2 separate regions of the Homo sapiens genome follow, and region 1 is linked to region 2. Evidence: fine-mapped expression QTL. Tissue or cell type: whole blood. Region 2 holds a variant in brackets; the other region holds the start of a gene. All regions are shown on one strand. Distances are between the middles of the regions.

What was found. PIP is the estimated chance that this variant, and not a neighbour inherited with it, causes the effect.
Region 1: it holds the start of VWF, and the variant in region 2 is fine-mapped to the expression of VWF in whole blood (TOPMed, PIP above 0.99).

Annotation. Positions count from the first base shown.
Region 1 is chr12:6,120,659-6,129,876 of GRCh38, reverse strand. VWF (von Willebrand factor) reads left to right here and starts at 5,207. Exons shown (of 52, transcript NM_000552.5): 1 at 5,207-5,456; 2 at 6,681-6,735; 3 at 8,539-8,703. The coding sequence starts at 6,681.
Region 2 is chr12:6,151,550-6,162,539 of GRCh38, reverse strand. All of the region lies in intron 1 of LOC124902866 (a long non-coding RNA gene), which reads left to right. Among named protein-coding and RNA genes, the nearest start is that of VWF, 32 kb to the right of the region's middle. RefSeq lists an enhancer at 2,950-3,523. The variant G/T (reference allele first, on the strand shown) is at 6,248.

The DNA of each region.
Region 1 (9,218 bases), 32 kb after region 2:
TCTGCTTTATAATTTAATCGTTTTTAAAAATAAATTTTAAGCTTATATTATGAAGTGCACATAAATCTATAGATTCCATCTTCCTGGTGCATTGATCTTTGTATCACCTTTTTCTACTCTTTGGTGCTAATGATGACTTTGATCTTAAGGTCCACTGTGTGTGATAGTGGTATAAAACGCTTTTCCTTGGCCATCACTTGCCTCTCCTTTCTTTTCCTTACGGTCTTTGTGTGTTTATATTTTAGGACTGTCTCTTGAACATTGCTGGATTGTGTGCCTTTTTAAAGAAATCCAATTTGATAATCTCTACCTTTTTATTATTGATTATTGATCTGTTTGAATTTTTTGTACTGTTGCATTTACATTTTATACTATTTGTCTTGCTTTTTCCATTTTTCTCCTAGATCAATCTAGTTTTTAAAAATTTCTTGTTTTTTTTCGATAGGTTTGGAAAACATACATTCAATTCTATTCTTTCAGTAGCCTCCCTTAAAATCTTACTATGCAGTATAGCCTTAACTAAGTCTAAAGTGATCATGACCTGTTTCTTCCTTCTGAGCCATGCAAGGACCTTAATACACTTTCACTCCTGTCTTACATGTCATTGCTATCTGGTATTTTGGTTCTAATTTTTAATAACTCTCCAACTTATCATTACCATTGTTATTGTTTTATATAATGACTGCCTGCTCATATTTACCCCCAGATTTACTATTTTATTTATTTACCTTTTCTTGGCATCCTGTTTCTAGGCTGAATTTTCTTCTTCCTGGCAGGGCGAGGTGGCTCACACCTGTAATCCCAGCACTTTGAGAGGCCGAAGCAGGAAGACTGCTTGAGCCCAGGAGCTCTAGGAGTTTGAGACCAGCCTAGGTAACATGGCAAAACCCTGTCTCTACAAAAAAATACAAAAATTAGCCAGGTATGGTGGTACATGCCCATAGTCCCAGCTACTAGGGAGGCTGAGGTGGGAGGATCGCTTGAGCCCAGAAGGTTTAGGCTGCAGTGAGTTGTGACTGTGTCACTGCGCTCCACCCTGGGTGACAGAGACCCTGTCTCAGAAACAATAACAAAAAATGTTTTTTCTCCCTGAAATTCCTTCTTTAGTAGTTTCTTCAGAAAGGACTGTTAATGTTAAGCCCACTCTGTTTTTCCAAAAAAAAAAAAAAAAAAAAAGTCTATGTTTCCTCAACTCTGAACAATAATTTACAGGTAGACCAGATGTTACAGTCCCTCTGCCACGGCCCTCTAACCCCATCTCTCCGTTTCTTCTAGACTACCAGTGTCTGCTCCTCCGTGCCTGAGGGCCAGAAGTGTTGAGGGCTGAATGCCTCCTGAAGCAGCCTTGACAATAACTGACAGGAAGGAGTAAGTGTAGAAACTCTCCTGCTCCCTGACCCAAGAGTGGGAAGATTCAGAGGCATGGATCTTACATTTTCCCAGACTTCCCTCCAGAAGGAAGCTTTCTTGTCCACTTGGTGGCTGGCATAATAAACATCTTTTATTGACTGCTTTCCCTGCCCCGTATCACATTCCCACTTCCCTGCCGATGCTTCCTGTCCTCCCAAATCAATTATCTACACTAAAATACTCAGGGTCTGCTTCTGGGACTTCAAACTAAGACACTGCATATAGAATTCTCCACAAATGGACTTCTTCTCTCAGCACTTCTCTTTGGATCTTCTAATTCTATCATGTTTCTTAATTCTGCCTCCATTTTTTTTTTTTTTTTTTTTTTTTTTTGAGATGGAGTCTCACTCTGTCACCCAGGCCAAAGTGCAGTGGTGTGATCTTGGCTCACTGCAACCTCTGCCTCCTGGGTTCAAGCAATCCTCCTGCCCCAGCCTCTTGAATAGCTGGAATTACAGGCATGCACCACCATGCAAGGCTAATAGTTGTATTTTTAGTAGAGATGGGATTTCAACACGTTGGCCAGGCTGGTCTCGAACTCCTGACCACAAGTGATCTGCCTTACTTGGGCTCCCAAAGTGCTGGGATTACAGGCATAAGCCACTGTGCCTGGCTGCTCTTCCATTTTTTCATCTCTATATTTGAGTGATTTCTTTAGAACCATTTTTCAGCTTTTTTTTTCCCAAAAATATCTGGTGTTTTTGAATTTTTCAATTAATTTACTATATACATTTCTTAAAGTTCTTTTTTTTTTTTTTTGGGACAGTATCTCACTCTATTGGCTAGGCTGGAGTGCGCGATTATGGCTCACTGCAACCTCAACCTCCTGGGCTCAAGGGGTCCTCCCTCCTACCTCAGCCTCCTGAGTAGCTGTGACCACAGGCATGCACCGCCAGGCCCAGCTAATTTTTTATTTTTATTTTTTGTAGAGATGGGGTCTTGCTGTGTTGTGTAGGCTAGTCTCAAATTACTGAGCACAGACAATCCTCTTGCCTCTGCCTCCCAAAGTGTTAGGATTACAGGTGTGAGCCTCCACGTCTGGCCTTAAAGTTCTTTTTCAAGTTTTCCTCCTGTTCTTTCTTTTTTTTTTTTTTTTAACGGACTCTCACTCGGTCACCAGGCTGGAGTGCTGTGGCATGATCTTGGCTCACTGCAGCCTCCGCTTCCCGGGTTCAAGCGATTCTCCTGCCTCAGCCTCCAGAGTAGCTGGGACTACAGGTGCGTGCCACCATGCCCAGCTGATTTTTGTATTTTTAGTAGAGATGGGGTTTCACCATATTGGCCAGGATGGTCTTGATCTGTTGACCTTGTGATCCACCCACCGTGAGCCACCGTGCCCTGCCTTGAAAAAAGTTTATTCTTTGTAAAGACAGGGTCTTGCTGTGTTGCCCAGGCTGGTCTTGAACTCCTGGTCTCAAGCGATTATCCCATCTCAGCCTCCCAAAGTGCCAGGATTATAGACATGAACCACCGTGCCTAGCCTCTATTATAATTTTAAACACTCATTTTTTTCTTTTTATCTTTCTCTGATGATTTTATTATCTGAAATTCTTAGGGATTTAATTCTTGCTCATGGTAGATTGTTTTCTCAAGTGTTGAAAAATTTGTGATTTTGAATTCATCGTCAAGAGAGCTTTATTTGCATGAGTGCAAAGGATGAAAATTCTAGACTGGGCGTGGTGGCTCACGCCTGTAATCCCAGCACTTTGGGAGACCGAGGTGGGCAGATCACGAGGTCAGGAGTTTGAGACCAGCCTGGCTAACATAGTGGAACCCCATCTCTACTAAAAATACAAAAAATTAGCTGGGTGTAGTGGTGTGTGCATGTAATCCCAGCTACTTGGGAGGCTGAGGCAGGAGAATTGCTTGAAGCCGGGAGGCAGAGGTTGCAGTGAGCCATGATTGCATCACTGCACTCCAGCCCAGCGGACAGTGCGAGACTCCATCTCAAAAAAAAAAAAAGAAAGAAAAGAATATTCTAAAAAAAGACTTAATTCCCCCCGCCACCCCACCCCAAAACAAGTGGAGACAGGCAAACTTCCTTATCTTCTAGGTTGGGGGATGGATTTTTTTCCTGGTCCACTGTTTGGAAGATGTTTCCCTTCAAACTTTCAGCTTTTGCAGGGATCTCCGTTCTAGTTCTCCCTCTGGGTCAGGCCCGTAGCTGCACTGCCCATTCTTGTAATGTGCGGCCTCCAGTCTGGAGGGTTCCCAGACTGGCCTACGCTAGGCCACCCATGGGCCTACCCTGCCTCATGCTCATTTAGGCTCCTCTTCCTCATTGACCCTTTAAGATATTCCTTACTTTCCTCCCAGATCAACTGTGGATTTAAAGAACATTTGTTGTATTTAGCACAGCATTTAAAGATATTTTGTAATGAAAGGGTTTTCAGATTAGTTATTTAGTTTTTTTAAATAAGAGCTGGAAGTGGAAATCCCGATGGCCTTTTCTTTTCTTTTCTTTTTTTTCTTGAGACGGAGTCTTGCTCTGTCACCCAGGCTGGAGTGCAGTGGCTCGATCTCAGCTCACTGCAAGCTCCGCCTCCCGGGTTCACGCCATTCTCCTGCCTCAGCCTCCCGAGTAGCTGGGACTACAGGCGCCCGCCACCACGCCTGGCTAATTTTTTGTGTTTTTAGTAGAGACGGGGTTTCACTATGTTAGCCAGGATGGTCTTGATCCCTTGACCTCGTGATCCGCCCACCTCGGCCTCCCAAAGTGCTGGGATTACAGGCGTGAACCACCGTGCCCGGCCCCCCAATGGCCTTTTCTACTGTCTCATGCTGATTCTGCCTCTGGTGCCATTTTTCTTCCTTGGGAGTGTGCATCTTCCTCTCCTGGGGCGGTAAAGGGAGTAGCAGAGTGCGAGGTATGTGGGAAGGGAGGAGGTTGGAACCTAGTGGTTTCTCAAAGTCTTAGGGCAGGAGGTATCATGGAGAAGCAGTGAGGAGGTCTTCCATACCCAGACATGCCTCAGGGTGCTTGTCTCAGTGCCTGGAATCCCAGCACGAGAGTCATCTTCCCCCCACCGCTGCCCATTGCATCAGTTACTTATTTTAGTAGGAATTAGTTTAGCAGATGGTGTTGAGAATTAGGCTTTTGGGAATGGGAGGCTGGGAAGAAGAATTGTGTGTGTGTGTGTGTGTGTGTGTGTGTGTGTGTGTGTGTAAGATCAGGGTACCAGAAGTGGGTGGAAATGTCCTTGAGAATTAGAATTATTAGAATGTAGCAACAGTAGAAGTATTAGACTCAAACCATCACTCCCCACCTTCACCATTTTACAAAGGCTTAGGCTTGTGGCCAAGACCTTCATCTTTAGCCGATCCATTCAACCCTGGCCAGGATCCAAATGGACTGTTTTTGTCAGGGCCAGGACCGGATCCTTCATACCTGGGGTGCATAGGAAGTGTTAGTACTCCCCTTCCTCCAAACACAGCAGCAAAATTGGCTCAGGTTGAGGTGTTTTTCTCAACTTCCCTGGAGTCCAGCCCTGGAAGCTGGATCAGGAAGCTGTGTTGTTCTACTGTGATTCCCCCTGGCCTGTATCAGCTTGCCCTGAAACAACCAGCATTCCTGGTTATCCCACACAGGTGGGGCACTCTAGGAAGACCAGGGATCAAGTGTGGGGGTGTAGGGATAGGGGGTGTTTGGGGAGGGCAAGGCAGTTAATTAAGGCAGCTGCCAGGAGGTCTCCCTCCAAACTCTACAAAGCTTTATCAGCTTGGAGGTACTTCTAATACCATTTCCTTTCATTGTTTCCTTTTGGTAATTAAAAGGAGGCCAATCCCCTGTTGTGGCAGCTCACAGCTATTGTGGTGGGAAAGGGAGGGTGGTTGGTGGATGTCACAGCTTGGGCTTTATCTCCCCCAGCAGTGGGGACTCCACAGCCCCTGGGCTACATAACAGCAAGACAGTCCGGAGCTGTAGCAGACCTGATTGAGCCTTTGCAGCAGCTGAGAGCATGGCCTAGGGTGGGCGGCACCATTGTCCAGCAGCTGAGTTTCCCAGGGACCTTGGAGATAGCCGCAGCCCTCATTTGCAGGGGAAGGTATGGCCTTTGGAAGGAGAGCTGGCTCAGTTGTGGGAGGAAGATGCAGGACTGACTGATCCCTGCTCCTGGGGAGCTGGAGTTCTCTGTCGCTGGACTAGAAGGGCTTTGTTTGGAGGGGCAATTCAATTCAGCCAGGGATGATCCTAATACTCCCTCCTCCACTTGCCTCTGAGGGTCCTGGGGCTGCTTTTCTTCATGCAGTGGGTTTTACTGTTTGATAGTACTTCACTCAAATGAGTTGGAATGAAGTTTGCCCTCACCTCTGAGAACCTGGGAGCAGCTGAATGTACCTGCGTGTTAGGACTGGGAGGGGACACCTGCTTGGAGACCGAGACCTGGCAGTATCTGACATCTCAGTGTTCCTTCCACAGATGTATCACAGATTGGCTTGATTTCACCTTTGGCTGGATGGGACCTTAGGTAGGAAGGGAGTCACCCCCAGTGAATCTCAGGCAGCAGATTCTGCACTTCATTTAACAACTTTTCCCGAGGAGAGGGGCTACAGCAGGGGCTCTAAGTGACTTGGGGTACGCTCTGCCAGCCAGGATGAATTGTCCCTCTCTTGGGGGTCACACAGTGGGGAAGTCTGCCTGCATCCAGGGCCGCTGGACTCCTGTCCATTTTTTCAGATGAACTCAGCAAACATTTGCTGGGCATCTCCTGGGTGCTAAGCATCTTGCCAGGTGCTGGGGTTGGAGGCAAGGGAGACAGCCTTTGCTCTTGTGAAGGCACTTGTGGTACAGAGTCAGGGGCCAACAAGCAAACCGTCAAGTTGGTGGTTCCTGAGCATTCTCTATGTCTGGGCTGCTGTGGTGGGCACACAAGTGTAAGACGGTTCCTACTCGCCAGTTTGGATGCAGAGGCAGGAAGGAATGAGGTGTGTGTTAGCTCCCAGCTGCTTCAGGAGGCAGGGATGTGAGGCCCAGCGGGCCTGGAGGGAAGGCAGCGTTTTCCTCCTGTCTTGGGCCTGGGACTGCTGTCTGTGGAAAGGTGCCCACAGGTCCCAGCTCACAGCGATTGTTACCCTTGGGCCTGGCACTGGCCAGGGGTTTTTTCGGGGGCCAGAAGTCCATGTTCAAAGGGGAAAAGGGGGTCACGAGGATCAATCTTTTCTCCTGCTTTAAAGAAATGTTTTTGCTACTGCATGCCCTGATAGTCGCCACACCAGCAGCCGCCTACCTGGGCAGCAATGACCAGCTCACGTCTCTTGCTTCTTTGCAGATGATTCCTGCCAGATTTGCCGGGGTGCTGCTTGCTCTGGCCCTCATTTTGCCAGGTAGGTACAAAAGGGCCTCCATTTCTCATTCCTGCCCCAGGGCCATCTGGAGTGACACCTTTCCGGGAATCAGCAGGTGTGTCTGGAGCTCACCTGTGTGCCCAGCCCTAACTTAGGCTGTTGGTTGCCTCCTGTGAAGGTTCTGCGGAGTTCCCACCCTTGACTTGTATTCCAGAGACCAGGTGCCTGCAAATGCCATCTCCTGTTGGGGAATTAAGAAGCATAAAGGTGGCACAGAACTGTCCTATATTATGGGGGCACAGGATGAGGAGGAAGGAATCCAAGACTTGGATGGATTATTAGTTTTCGATAAGATTGTGGAGGTCACCTTGTTGAACCTCCCATGGTACAATGAAGAGACTGAGGGTCAGAGAGGAGAAATGACTGCTCCAAAGTCTCCTAGAGCCAAAATCAGAGGTCAGTCTTCCTGGGTTCCAGGCCAACACCCTTTCCACTGCACTGCATCATACTGCTGCCCTTCCCTTGCTAAGATTCTGGGTCTGCAAATGGCGGGAGGGGACTTTTGACCTTGGGCGCTTTCCACTTAGATCTCTCAGGTCAGCAGCATCCAGCTACTGCCCACAGGTGAGTCTGGGAAAAAAAATACACATTTGTCACACTCTCTGCATCTTCCTACTAGGTGGGTCTTTTGCCGGGGAACCCAGAACACTTAGAGATTTACTGCTGTATTTCCCCACCTGCCGACACACACACACCCATAGTCAGTGAAGGAGTTAGCCTGTGACGCCGGAGGAGTTCACACTTCAGAGAGTCTATGTGTCAGGCACACAGTCTGATCTGTTTAAAATTTAACATGCCCAAGACATGCTAGTAGATTTATGTACAAAGATGCTCACTGCAATCTATCTATAATATTAAAACATGGAAAAATGCTAGAAACCTAACAATAGAGGGCTATACTATAGACATTCAGATGCAAAATATAATGCAGCCACTAAAAACCGCATATTGGAAGTATATACACTAGCACGACAAATTGTTTACAATCTATTGAGAAATAAACAGAGGTTATAGGTAGTTTGCACAAGTTGGTCACCAATTTATAAAAAACCCACAGCTGTATATATGCTATACAACAAAATGGAAAGATGAACATTGAAATGTTAACTCTAATCATCGCTGAATGTTGGGTTACAGATGGTTTTAACTTCTTTGTCTTTTCTTTTCTTTTTCTTTTTCTTTTTTTTTTCGAGACAGAGTCTCACTCTGTCGCCCAGTCTAGAGTGCAGTGGTATGATGTTGGCTCCCTGCAACCTCTGCCTCCTGGGCTCAAGTGATTCTCCTGCCTCAGCCTCACCAGTAGCTGGGATTACAGGCGCCCACCACTACACCCGGCTAGTTTTTGTATTTTTAGTAGAGACAGGGTTTCGCCATGTTGGGCAGGCTGGTCTTGAATTCCTGACCTCAGGTGATCTGCCCACCTCGGCCTCCCAAAGTGCTGGGATTATAGGCGTGAGCCACTGTGCCCGGCCAGCTTCTTTGTTTTCTTCTGTATGCCCCAAATTTTTAATAATGGACATGATGACATTTTAAATCAGTAAGTAAATGTCATTGAAACTAATGGATTTCCTGAAAAACTGTTCCTTAGTTATTGCTGTGAGTCTGGGGTCATATCTGGGAGCTGAAAGCAACAGCTTTAGTCTCATTTAGGATGGAAAATACCTCCCCACAGCCCAGTTTCTATCAGAGGCAGTCTAATTTCTACGAGGCCAGAGAGGTTTGAGCTGATGGTCCCAGTTGTGCCCTGAGATCACCAGCCCAACCTGTGGCCTCTCCCTCCAGGGACCCTTTGTGCAGAAGGAACTCGCGGCAGGTCATCCACGGCCCGATGCAGCCTTTTCGGAAGTGACTTCGTCAACACCTTTGATGGGAGCATGTACAGCTTTGCGGGATACTGCAGTTACCTCCTGGCAGGGGGCTGCCAGAAACGCTCCTTCTCGATTATTGGTGAGTTCTGGGCACTGCAGGGAGGACTTCAGAGGGAGGGCTGGCTGAGCTTAGCCCTGGTGTGGGGGAGGATTCCTGCTCTCAGGACAGTGTCTGAGCGGAAAGGTCACTGCTGAGAACAAGGAGAGGAACAGCCTTTCTGTGACACGTAGCCCCTCTTGGCTTTCCCCGGGTCTCTCCCCACGGGAGCCGGGTGGGATGGATGAAGAGAGTCTTCATCTTTGGTAGTCCACTGTGTCCGTTGCTCTGGGGCCCGGCGATGCCCTGGGAACTCCACAGCATCAAGGCAAATGATGAACTAGAGAAGGTGCTTTGGAACGTGTAAAACTCCTTGCCAGAGAGAAGACTCGTTGTTGTTTTCTTGGTGGCCTGTGGATCAGAACATCAGCTTATGCTGAGGACTTCCTGTATTCCTGCAGAAGGGCTGGTACTGTCCCTGCCATGTCCCTGCATCCCCACAACAGCCCTGGGATGTAGCTGTAGTCATCCCAGTTTTACCAATGGAGAACCAAGGC
Region 2 (10,990 bases):
GAAAAATCAGACCTTGGCAATGACATAGAGCAGTGGGATATAAATAACTCCCGCATGCTTAGCGTTCCAATAATGGAACACTAGGCATAAAATTAAGCTGGGCTCCATCCTGAGAGGCTCACACAGGGAGTAGGAACCTAACACTAAGGTCAAATGCAACTGCGTTGGACATCCCTGTGCCAGAGCAGCTAGCAGTCTCCCTAATTTTTTTTTTTTTCTGGACAGGTTCTCACTCTGTCATTCAGGCTGCAATGCAGTAGTGTGATCTCGGCTCACTGTAGCCTTGACCTTCCAGGCTCAAAGTGATCCTCTCACCTCAGCCTCTCTAGTAGCTGGGACTATGGGCACATGCTACCACACCCAGCTATTTATTTTTTATTTTTTGTAGTGACGGGGTCTTACTATGTTGCCCAGGCTGGTTTTGAGATCCTGGACTCCAGTGATCCTCTCTCCTTAGCTTCCCAAACTGCTGGGATTACAGGTGTTAGCCACCATGACTGGCCCCAAATTCGCCTTTCCTTCTACCATAGTCATTGATTTAGTTGAAGACATGACTCCCCAGAATAAAATCTCTATTTCCCAGGCTCCTTTACACCCAGGGTAGCCACAGGGACAAGTTCTGGCCAATAGGATGTGAGTAGAAGGGGCGGAGGCAACCTCTGGGCATGTCCTTAAGCGGCAGGGGCCTCCCTCCTTCATTCCCCGGACCCGCAGCTCCATCCCCGCACGCCCCTGACCCAGCTTCCTCCTTCTGGCCGTCCAGAGGGCAGATGTGGTGATGGGCTGTCTGAGCCCATGAGATGAGGCCAGCCTCCCAGGGTGGAACAGCTGGGGCTGGCTCTCTGCCCTGTGGAGCTGCTGAGCAGCCCTGGACTACTTACGTTCAGAGAATTCCATGAGGGAGAAATGCATCCTAGCTCATTTCCTCCCGGGTGTTTGGGGCTGTTGCAGCAGTCAAGTTCATAGCCTGACCATGTGATAGTGAATCCCACAGTGACCTATGTTACTTCTCAACCAGCAGGTTACTAACGTGCTGCTTTTGTTCAAGGATGGGAGTTGAAGCTGGGAAGTGTGGAGGGGAGGTGGGTGCAAGAATTCCCTTGAGAAGGGTCAGGAAGTCATCACTCGTCAGATTAGTCCCACAGACTTCGTGGGGGAGGCAGGACTTTAGGAATGTTCACAGTGTAGATATTCCTTCTTCCCCTACCGGTTCCCCCATGTCGTCTTTTTGTCCTTGCTCCCCTCCTCTCTCCCTGATCATCGTCCTGGCCCGGCACCCACTCCACATTCCTGAGGATATGGTGAGGAAGAACGAGACCCATTTTTGCCTTGCAGGCTGGTTATGATACAGACTCAGGCCTCTCAGGTCCAAAACCTGGGCCATCCTCCACCCTTCTCTCTCTCCCACCCCATGTAGACTTCGTCAGCAGATCCTGCCAGAGCTATTTCAAAATATGACCGGATCACCCCTTTCCATCCCTCCTCTCCTGCTCTAAGCCCCCATCATCTTTGGCCTAAACTTTGCTTTAGCCCCCTAATGACTCTCCATGCTTCCACCCTCATCCCCACCCCCGCTAACGCAGTCTGTTCCCAACAGAGCACCCAGAACGATTTCCTTAGAACGTAAATCAGACCATGTCACTTTTCTGCGCAATTTTCCAGTGGTCCCCATCTCTCTCAGAGGACACTCCAAATTCTTTTCGTGGCCCCCAGGGCCCTAACTGATGCTCCCACCTTGCCCCTCAGCATTTCACTTGGGTGTGCCTAGAGCACAGCAGGCGTGTTCCTGCCTCACGGTGCTGGCGTGCAGCCCTCTTTGTCTAGATTCTCCATGGCTTGTCTGTCACACTGTGTCTGGAATTGGTGGGTTCTTGGTCTCACTGACTAAGAATGAAGCCGCGGACCCTCGCGGTGAGTGCTACAGTTCTTAAAGGCGGCGTGTCTGGAGTTTGTTCCTTCTGATGTTAAGATGTGTTCGGAGTTTCTTCCTTCTGGTGGGTTCGTGGTCTCACTGGCTCAGGACTGAAGCTACAGACCTTCGTGGTGAGTGTTACAAGCTCTTAAAGCGGCGTGTCTGGAGTTGTTCATTCCTCCTGGTGGGCTCATGGTCTCTGTGGGCTTAGGAGGGAAGCTGCAGATCTTCGCAGTGAGCGTTACAGCTCATAAAAGCAGCGTGCACCCAAAGAGAGAAAGAACAAAACTTCCACATTGGGGAAGCCAACTCCAGCGGGTTGCCACTGCTGGCTCGGGCAGCCTGCTTTTATTCTCTTATCTGCCCCCACCCACATCCTGCTGATTGGTAGAGCCGAGTGGCCTGTTTTGACGGGGTGCTGATTGGTGCGTTTACAATCCCTGAGCTAGACCCAAAGGTTCTCCTCCTCCCCACCAGATTAGCTAGATACAGAGTGTCCACACAAGGTTCTCCAAGGCCCCACCAGAGCAGCTAGATACAGAGTGTCCATTGGTGCATTCACAAACCCTGAGCTAGACACAGGGTGCTGATTGGTGTGTTTACAAACCTTGAGCTAGATACAGAGTGCCGATTGGTGTATTTACAATCCTGAGCTAGACATAAAGGTTCTCCAAGGTCCCACCAGAGTCAGGAGCCCAGCTGGTTTCACCCAGTGGATCCCGCACCTGGGCTGCAGGTGGAGCTGCCTGCCAGTCCCGCGCTGTGTGCCCGCACTCCTCAGCCCTTGGGTGGTCGATGGGACTAGGTGCCAGTGGAGCAGCGGGCGGTGCTCGTCGGGGAGGGTCCGGCCGCACAGGAGCCCACGGAAGAGGGGGGTCTCAGGCATGGCGGGCTGCAGGTCCTGAGCCCTGCCCCGCGGGGAGGCAGCTAAGACCCGGCGAGAAATCGAGCGCAGCGCCGGTGGGCCGGCACTGCTTAGGGACCCAGTACACCCTCCGCAGCTGCAGGCCCAGGTGTAAGCCCCTCGTTGCCCGGGGCCGGCAGGGCTGGCCGGCTGCTCCGAGTGCAGGGCCCGCCAAGCCCACGCCCACCCTGAACTCCAGCTGGCCCGCAAGCTCTGCGCGCAGCCCCGGTTCCCGCTCGCGCCACTCCCTCCACACCTCCCTGCAAGCTGAAGGAGCCGGCTCCGGCCTTCGCCGGCCCAGAAAGGGGCTCCCACAGTGCAGCGGTGGGCTGAAGGCCTCAAGTGCCGCCAAAGTGGGAGCCCAGGCAGAGGAGGCGCCGAGAGCGAGCAAGGGCTGTGAGGACTGCCAGCACGCTGTCACCTCTCAATATCAGGTCTCTTCTCAAGTGGCACCTGTCGCAGAGGCCCTCCGGGGCTATTCTGCATAAATACCACCCACTCTTGTCACTTGCTGTCCCCCTTACATTACTTTATTCTCTTGCTAGCCCTTATCACCATCTGATTTATATTTGCTTTCTTGTTTTTTGGCTTTTTCCCTCCATTAAGTGTAAGCTCTTTGTGTGTCTTGTCTGGCAATCTGTACCTCCACTTTCGACAGCAATGCCAGCAAGCACACAGCCGGGGCTCAGTAGACGCTTATAGGACGCTGAGTGGCGTGTGCTGGATGTGCTGCTGTGCAGAGCCCAGAAGCCAAGCTGCCCCTGCATGGCGTTCAGAGGAGGGATGGCTGGACCTGATACTCGGAGAGTGACGGGGAGGGAGTGCTTGGCCTGGGTCTGCTCAGATGGCCGCCGGGCCAGCCAGGCCATTGCTCTGACCTCAGTTCTGGAGAGTTCGGATTGGTGGCAAGGGAAAGGGCAGGAGCTGAGGAATGGATGGTTCCATTAATCATGGAACTTTGCCCAGAGGGGTCAGAGGAGTAAGGCAGGGGATAGAGGGAGAGATAGCATTAGACAGAAGGTTCTGGTGGCAGGGGAGGGGCTGGGGGGGAGAAAAGGGATCGGGGTGTGGGTTCTGGCTCAGCCTTTTCCAGACTTTGTGGCTGCTGCTGCAGTCCCAGAGTCTACTGGGGCCCCGCTGTCTGCTTCCTGGCCTGGCTGTTTGTTTATTTGGCCAGTAGTTTGGGCAGCCGTGGGCCTCTCTTGCTGACCTCCAGGGGAGGAGTTAAGTACATACTGCCTCTCAGGTGCAGCAACTAAAACCGTACAGGAAATGTTGAGGTGCCAGTCAGCAAGAGGGCCAGTCCTGGGCTTCCCCTGCCAGGGCCCCCTAGGAGCAGATACCCACCCCCACTCTTTCTCATCCCCAGCTCCTGTGGGAGTGAAGTGGGCTTCCTGTGCTTTCCAACGGAAACTTTACTTGGTTCTCTTCACAGCCAGCATTGATTCATTCTCTTAGTTGGCAAATACTTGTTAAGTACTCCATGCTACCAACGAGCTAGGAATACAGACAATCTTGGTGTAGAAAAATTCATCTTTAATGTTCATAGCCTTCCTGGTCAGCACCCATTCCTCCTCTCACTCATAGAACCTTTCCCCACATTGGGGAGAGGCTGGTTAATGGATACAAAGTTACAGCTGGCTAAGCTGAGGGGAATAAGCATTAGTGTCCTGTACCACTGTAGGGTGAAAGTAGTTAACAATAGTTTCAAGTATAGTTTCAAAAAGCTGCAAGGTAGGATTTTAAGTGTTCCCAGCACAAAGAAGTGATCGGTGTTCAAGATGTTAGATATGCTAATTACCCTGATTTGATCAATATACATCATATGCATGTATCAGAATACCACTTTGAATCCCATAAAAAATGGACAATTATCGTCAACAAAAAATAAAAGGGAAAAAACACCAAATATCTTTCCCCACATCAATTTCGTGTCCTAGGCTGGTGCTGTGTGCCTGGGAGCAGTGGTGTGTTGATCAATGTTTAACAAGTGACTCTTTGGAAGAAAAGCCATGATCTGTAGTGTCTGCCAATTTCTGTGGTGTAACTATTTCCAGCGTGTCAGATTCCATGCCACCCATGTGATGTTACTCAATGGAAAACTGGGAAGACTTCACAGTAACACACCATTATGTGTCATTTCCATCACACAGATACAGACATTGGTATGTATAACCTCAAGGGTATAGATAATAGTAAAATATAAAATAATTAGGAAGTATGAGTTTTGAGTCGTTATCTCTGTCTTAAATGTAACTTGTTTTACGATGATTATATATACTTTAGTATTTAATAATGAATGTATTTAACAACAGAGCCACAAAATTCCTGAAAATGTAAAAACTGGCTCTGCAAGCCAGGATCACTGCCTGTGAGCTTGTTGGAAATGCAGATTCTTAGGCCCCACCAGCTCTACTGAATCAGGATCTGAATTTTAACATTTTTAACAATACCCTCAGGTAATCCATATACATTATACATTTAAAAAGCATGCCCTAGGGGAAATAACTGTTTATTATTTCATTGATATCTTTTCAGAACTTTTCCACAACACAGATGTGTGTATTTTTAAAAATTTTGTTTTTAACAAAAATAAGATCACGCTGTAAATGTTTTGCAAGGTTTTGTTTTGTTTTCAACTTAGTAACATGTCTGATATCCTTCCATGTCAGTCTGTAGAGATCGCGTTATTTTTAATGTCTCTGTAGTATTTTAGGACATGAGTAAATCATGATAAAAAAAAATCATCTCTTGCTGGGCACAGTAGCTCATGCTTGTAATCCCAGCACTTTGGGAGGTTGAGATGGGTGGATCAATTGAGACAAGGAGTTTGAGACCAGCCTGTGTGACATATCAAAACCCTGTCTCTACAAAAAATACAAAAAAATAGTTGGGTGAGGTGGCTTGTGCCTGTAGTCGCAGCTGCTTGGGAGGCTTAGGGGGGAGGATCGCTTGAGTCTGAGGAGGTCTAGGCTGCCGTGAACCGTGATACTGCCACTACACTCCAGCCTGGGTGACAGTGAGACCCTGTCTCCTCCCCGCTCAAAAAACCTTCTCTGAACAAACACATATTGTTTTCCCCTTTTGCTTCAAGAAACTTTATAATTAAAAAGAAAGTTTCCTTGAACTGTCTTTGAATTTCCTTAACAAAATATACCTCAAAAAAACTTCTGAAAGCTAATTTATACCAAAGGGTTAGTGGCTGGCAATAATAGTTTTACAGCGTTTTCCTTCTTCCCCAGATTTAAACAGTTTACATTTTATCAATATTGAGATATTTTATGCATAATATTCTGAATAAGCTGCTAGGGAATAAAAAGAAGTTAGACGGGCTGGGCGTGGTGGCTCAGGCTTGTAATCTCAGCACTTCCGGAGGCTGAGGCGGGTGGATCACCTGAGGTCAGGAGTTCAAGACCAGCCTTGCCAACATG[G/T]CGAAACTCTAGTCTCTACTAAAAATGCAAAAAAATTAGCCAGGCGTGGTGGTGGGCGCCTGTAATCCCAGCTACTCGGGATGCTGAGGCAGGAGAATCGCTTGAACCCGGGAGGCGGAGGTTGCAGTGAGCCGAGATCGAGCCACTGCACTGCAGCTGGGTGATGAGCGAAACTCCGTCTCAAAAAAAAAAAAAAAAAAAGAAGTTAGACATGGGCCTGACTTTCACACGCTGACAGCCCTCCAAAGGGAATGCAATAATCATGAAATGAGGCAAATAATCATAAAATGAGGCACGACATATAGATACAGAACTGTTCCCAGCATCTGTAGTGCCATAAGAACATCGGAGAAGGGAGGGTAGAAAAACCTAAACTAGACACTGGGTGCTACCGATGACATTAGAGAAATTGATGGATAAGTGGGAAGGTGTCTGTCCTGTCCTCAAACCGCAGCAGGCAGCCTTAGGCTAAGGGCTGGTGGATGTAGGATAGGATAAAAAGAGAGCCCCAAGGGCAGTATTTCTACAGGGTGAACCTGGTACCCTTTTCTTCACAACCACCCTAAAGGGAAATTTTTCCCCCCACCCTTTTTTTTTTTTTTTTTTTGAGACGGAATCTCGCTCTTGTCACCAGGCTGGAGTGCAGTGGTGCGATCTAGGTTCACTGCAACCTCCGCCTCCCAGGTTCAAGCGATTCTCCTGCCTCAGCCTCCCGAGTAGCTGGCATTACAGGCGTGCGCCCACCACGCCCAGCTAATTTTTGTATTTTTAGTAGAGACGGAGTTTCACCAGGTTGGCCAGGATGGTCTCGATCTCTTGACCTAGTGATCCGCCCGCCTCAGCCTCCCAAAGTGTGGGAATTACAGGCATGAGCCACAGCACCCGGCCCCCACCCTTTTTTTCTCTAGCCCTAACATCTGGTTCCTTAATCTTCAGGAACCCTGATCCGCAAAGATGATAGCAGTTCTGCTTGGTTCCTGTCTGAGCCTGGATCTGGATCTGGGAGGTGCTGGCGGGGTCCTGTTCTTCCGCTCTGGTGGGAATCTGATTGTGATCAGCATTGGGCCGCATGCCAGAGACGGCTGCAGTCCTGTGCCTGGCCTGGCCGGCCTCGGTGCTACCCGCCACCCCTCACGTCTTCCCTTCTGGCTCCTTGTACGTCACTGGTCAGTCCGCGAACCCTGACTCTCCATCAGTGAGCTGTGTGGCACTGGGCAAGCCTCTGCCCTTCTCTACTTCCCAGGGTACAGAGTGAGCTTCCACCTTTTGGCTTGATTCTCCTTCACATCTTGCCCACCCAGGCTTCTGACCGAATCTAGCAGCTCAAGTCAAATTCAGCTGGAAATTGGCTGCTGAAGAAGCTGTCTTTCACCCTCTATAACTGAGGACTTACTGTTCCTAACTGTTGCTAAGTGGGGGCTGTTTTCTTTGAGGGAGTTTTTTCTTCTTTAGCAATTTTATATATAAAATAACAAATGCAAAGTATGTATTATGAGACATGCTAACAAAATGAACATCTGTGAACCCACTACCCCATCTAAGAATTAGAACATTATCAACAGGGTTGTATGTGCCTATGTGTTCTTTCCTGTTCTGTATGCCTGTCTCCCTTGAAGAGATAGCTATTACCCTGAGTTTTGGTGTTTGTTATTTCCTTGCTTTAAAAAAGTAGCTTCATCGGCCGGGCGTGATCCCAGCGCTTTGGGAGGCTGAGGCGGGTGGATCACCTGAGGTCAGGAGTTTGAGACCAGCCTGACCAACATGGTGAAACCCCATCTCTACTAAAAATACAAAATTAGCTGGGTGTGGTGGCATGCGCCTGTAATCCCAGCTACTGAGGAGGCTGAGGCAGGAGAATCACCTGAACCCGGGAGGCGGAGTTTGCAGTGAGCCAAGATCACGCCATTGTATTCTAGCCTGGGCGACAAGAGTGAAACTCTGTCTCAAAAAAAAAAAAAAAAAAAAGCTTCATCACATATGTTTGTATCTACAAACTTTACTTGTTTACTTTTGCTTGTTTTTGAGCTTTGTAAAAATGGTGTCATATTGTATATAGTTTTTTTTTGGTTGTGATAAACGGTAATGCTGTGAGTATTCTTGCATAAATCTCTGTATGCAGCAGTTCCCATGCACCAGCGTTTCTTCTAGAGAAGTGCAATCGATGAATTCTAGGGCATGTAAATGCTCAAGTTCACAGATTGTTTTGCCAATTTCCAATCCCACCAGCAGTATATGTAAGAGTATATGCTAGAATAATCATCGTTTATTGAACAGCCCAACTTTTTCCAATTGACCTACAATTGATCTCTGTTATCTAAAAAATTTCTATATATCTGTGGGTCTGCTTTTTGGCTTTTAACCTAATTCATTGATCAAGTTGTCTAAACCTGCACTAATATTATTCAGTCTAAAATGCTATGGATTTATAAGAAGTCCTGATGTTGGGTAAGTCCTGCCATCTCACTGTTTTCCTTGAAGAGTAAATTGACTATTTCTGGCCCATTGCATTTTGGCCTGTTGCATATATCAGAATCAACTTGTAATTTTGATTGGCATTGTATTGAGTCTATATCTCAGTTTGGACAGTGCTGACATTGTTGTGATATTGAGTCTAAATATCCATGGTATAACTCTCATATTAGTTAGGTTTTAATTAATGCCTTCTAATAAATATTGTATTTTTTCTTATGTATCCTGAGCATCTTTTTTTTTAGATCTGTTATTATGTAACTTATAGTTTTGTTGTGTGTTACATGAGTTTTTTTTACAATTTTTTACAATTATATTTCTGTTGCTGGTATATAGAAATGTAGTGGATTTTCAAATATTCATCTTATATCTGATGTTGCCAAAATGTCTACTGATTTCCAATATTTTATGTGTAGATTCTTTTGGGACAATGATATTGTATGTCATTAATGAGAGTTGTTTAGTTCTGGTCTTTTTTTTTTTTTTGAGACGGAGTCTCTGGAGTGCAGTGGTGTGATCTCGGCTCACTGCAAGCTCTGCCTCCTGGGTTCACAGCATTCTCCTGCCTCAGCCTCCTGAGTAGCTGGGGCTACAGGCGCCTGCCACCACGCCCAGCTAATTTTTTTTGTATTTTTAGTAGAGACAGGGTTTCACCGTGTTAGCCAGGATGGTCTTGATCTCCTGCCCTCATGATCCGCCCGCCTCAGCCTCCCAAAGTGCTGGGATTATAGGCATGAGCCACCGCGCCCGGCCCTAGTTCTGATCTTTATGATTTTCATTTATTTTTCTTCTCTTGTTTCATTGCCCAGAATTTCCAATGTAGCTTGAATGGAAGTGGCAAGAGTTGGCATCTTTGTCTTTTTTTTTATTTTTAAGGGAACTGATCTTCTATTTCTTACATTTCCTTATTAGAATGATGAGTCACACGTTTTGTTAATTAGGTTAATTTTTTTTTTTAATTCCTAGTTTACTAAGAGTTTTTATGATGAATAAGTAAATCTGGCAAATGCTTTTTCTGCAGCTATGGAGATGCCTATATTTTTACCCCTTAATTTGTTAATGTAGTATATGATTATGATACAATTTTAAATGTGAAAACCACCCTAAATTTCTGGAATAAATAAAACTTGGTCATAACGCACTCTCTTTTTTAATAAAACGGTTGGATTCACTTGCGAGTATTTTGTTTAGGACTTTTGCACCTATGTTCATGAGTAAGTTTTGCCAGGGATTTTCTTTTTCTTATACTGCTCATGTCTGGTTTTGGAGTCAAAATTGTATTGGAGACATCATCTGAATTAAAGCTAATTTTCTTTGTGGCAGAGTCCACTGATGGTTCTCTAATGGTTATTCTGGCCTTCTAACTTTTAACAACAAAACCCCAGTTTTTAGCTGGATACAAAACTGAAGATTATATTTCCCAGCCTCCCTCATAGGTAGATATGGCCATGTGATTAAGTTTTGACCAGTATCCCTTCATCAGCACCATCGTCAGTCAATTCTTTGTAGTTTTGAGTCCTGAGATTTACGATTCCAGCTTTGAGAAATAGGTCTTTGAGGGCATTTGTTTCTAATAGTGATTAATTTCATTAAAACTAAAAACATAGGCAGGGCGGGGTGGCTCACGCCTGTAATCCCAGCACTTTGGATTGCTGAGGAGGGCAGATCACGAGGTCAGGAGTTCGAGACCAGCATGGCCAACATGGTGAAACCCCATCTTTACTAAAGAAAAAAAATTAGCTGGACATGGTGGCGGGCACCTGTAATCCCAGCTACTTGGGAGGCTGAGGCAGGAGAATTCCTTGAACCTGGGAGGTGGAGATTGTAGTGAGCTGAGATTGCACCATATCGCTCCAGCCTGGGCCACGGGACGAGACTCCATCTCAAACAAACAAACAAAACTAAAAACATGATCTAGTAACTAGATTTCTTGATTTTTTAATACATCAGGGTAAAACAGAAATACCTTCATTGCTTCTTGACCTATATTTGAAGCTTCTGTAGATACCTTCACATAGTAGGAAGTCTAGCAGTTCTCAAGGCCCTACACCAGCCATTATATGCATGAAAGAAGATCAACTGTGAAAAATTTTTGGCTTTTAAAAATGTATTTACCAGGCGTGGTGGCTCACGTCTGTAATCCCAGCACTTTAGGAGGCTGAGGTGGGTGGATCATGAGGTCAGGATATCAAGATCATCCTGGCTAACACGGTGAAACCCCATCTCTACTAAAAATACAAAAAATTAGCCGGGCGTGGTGGCGAGCGCCTGTAG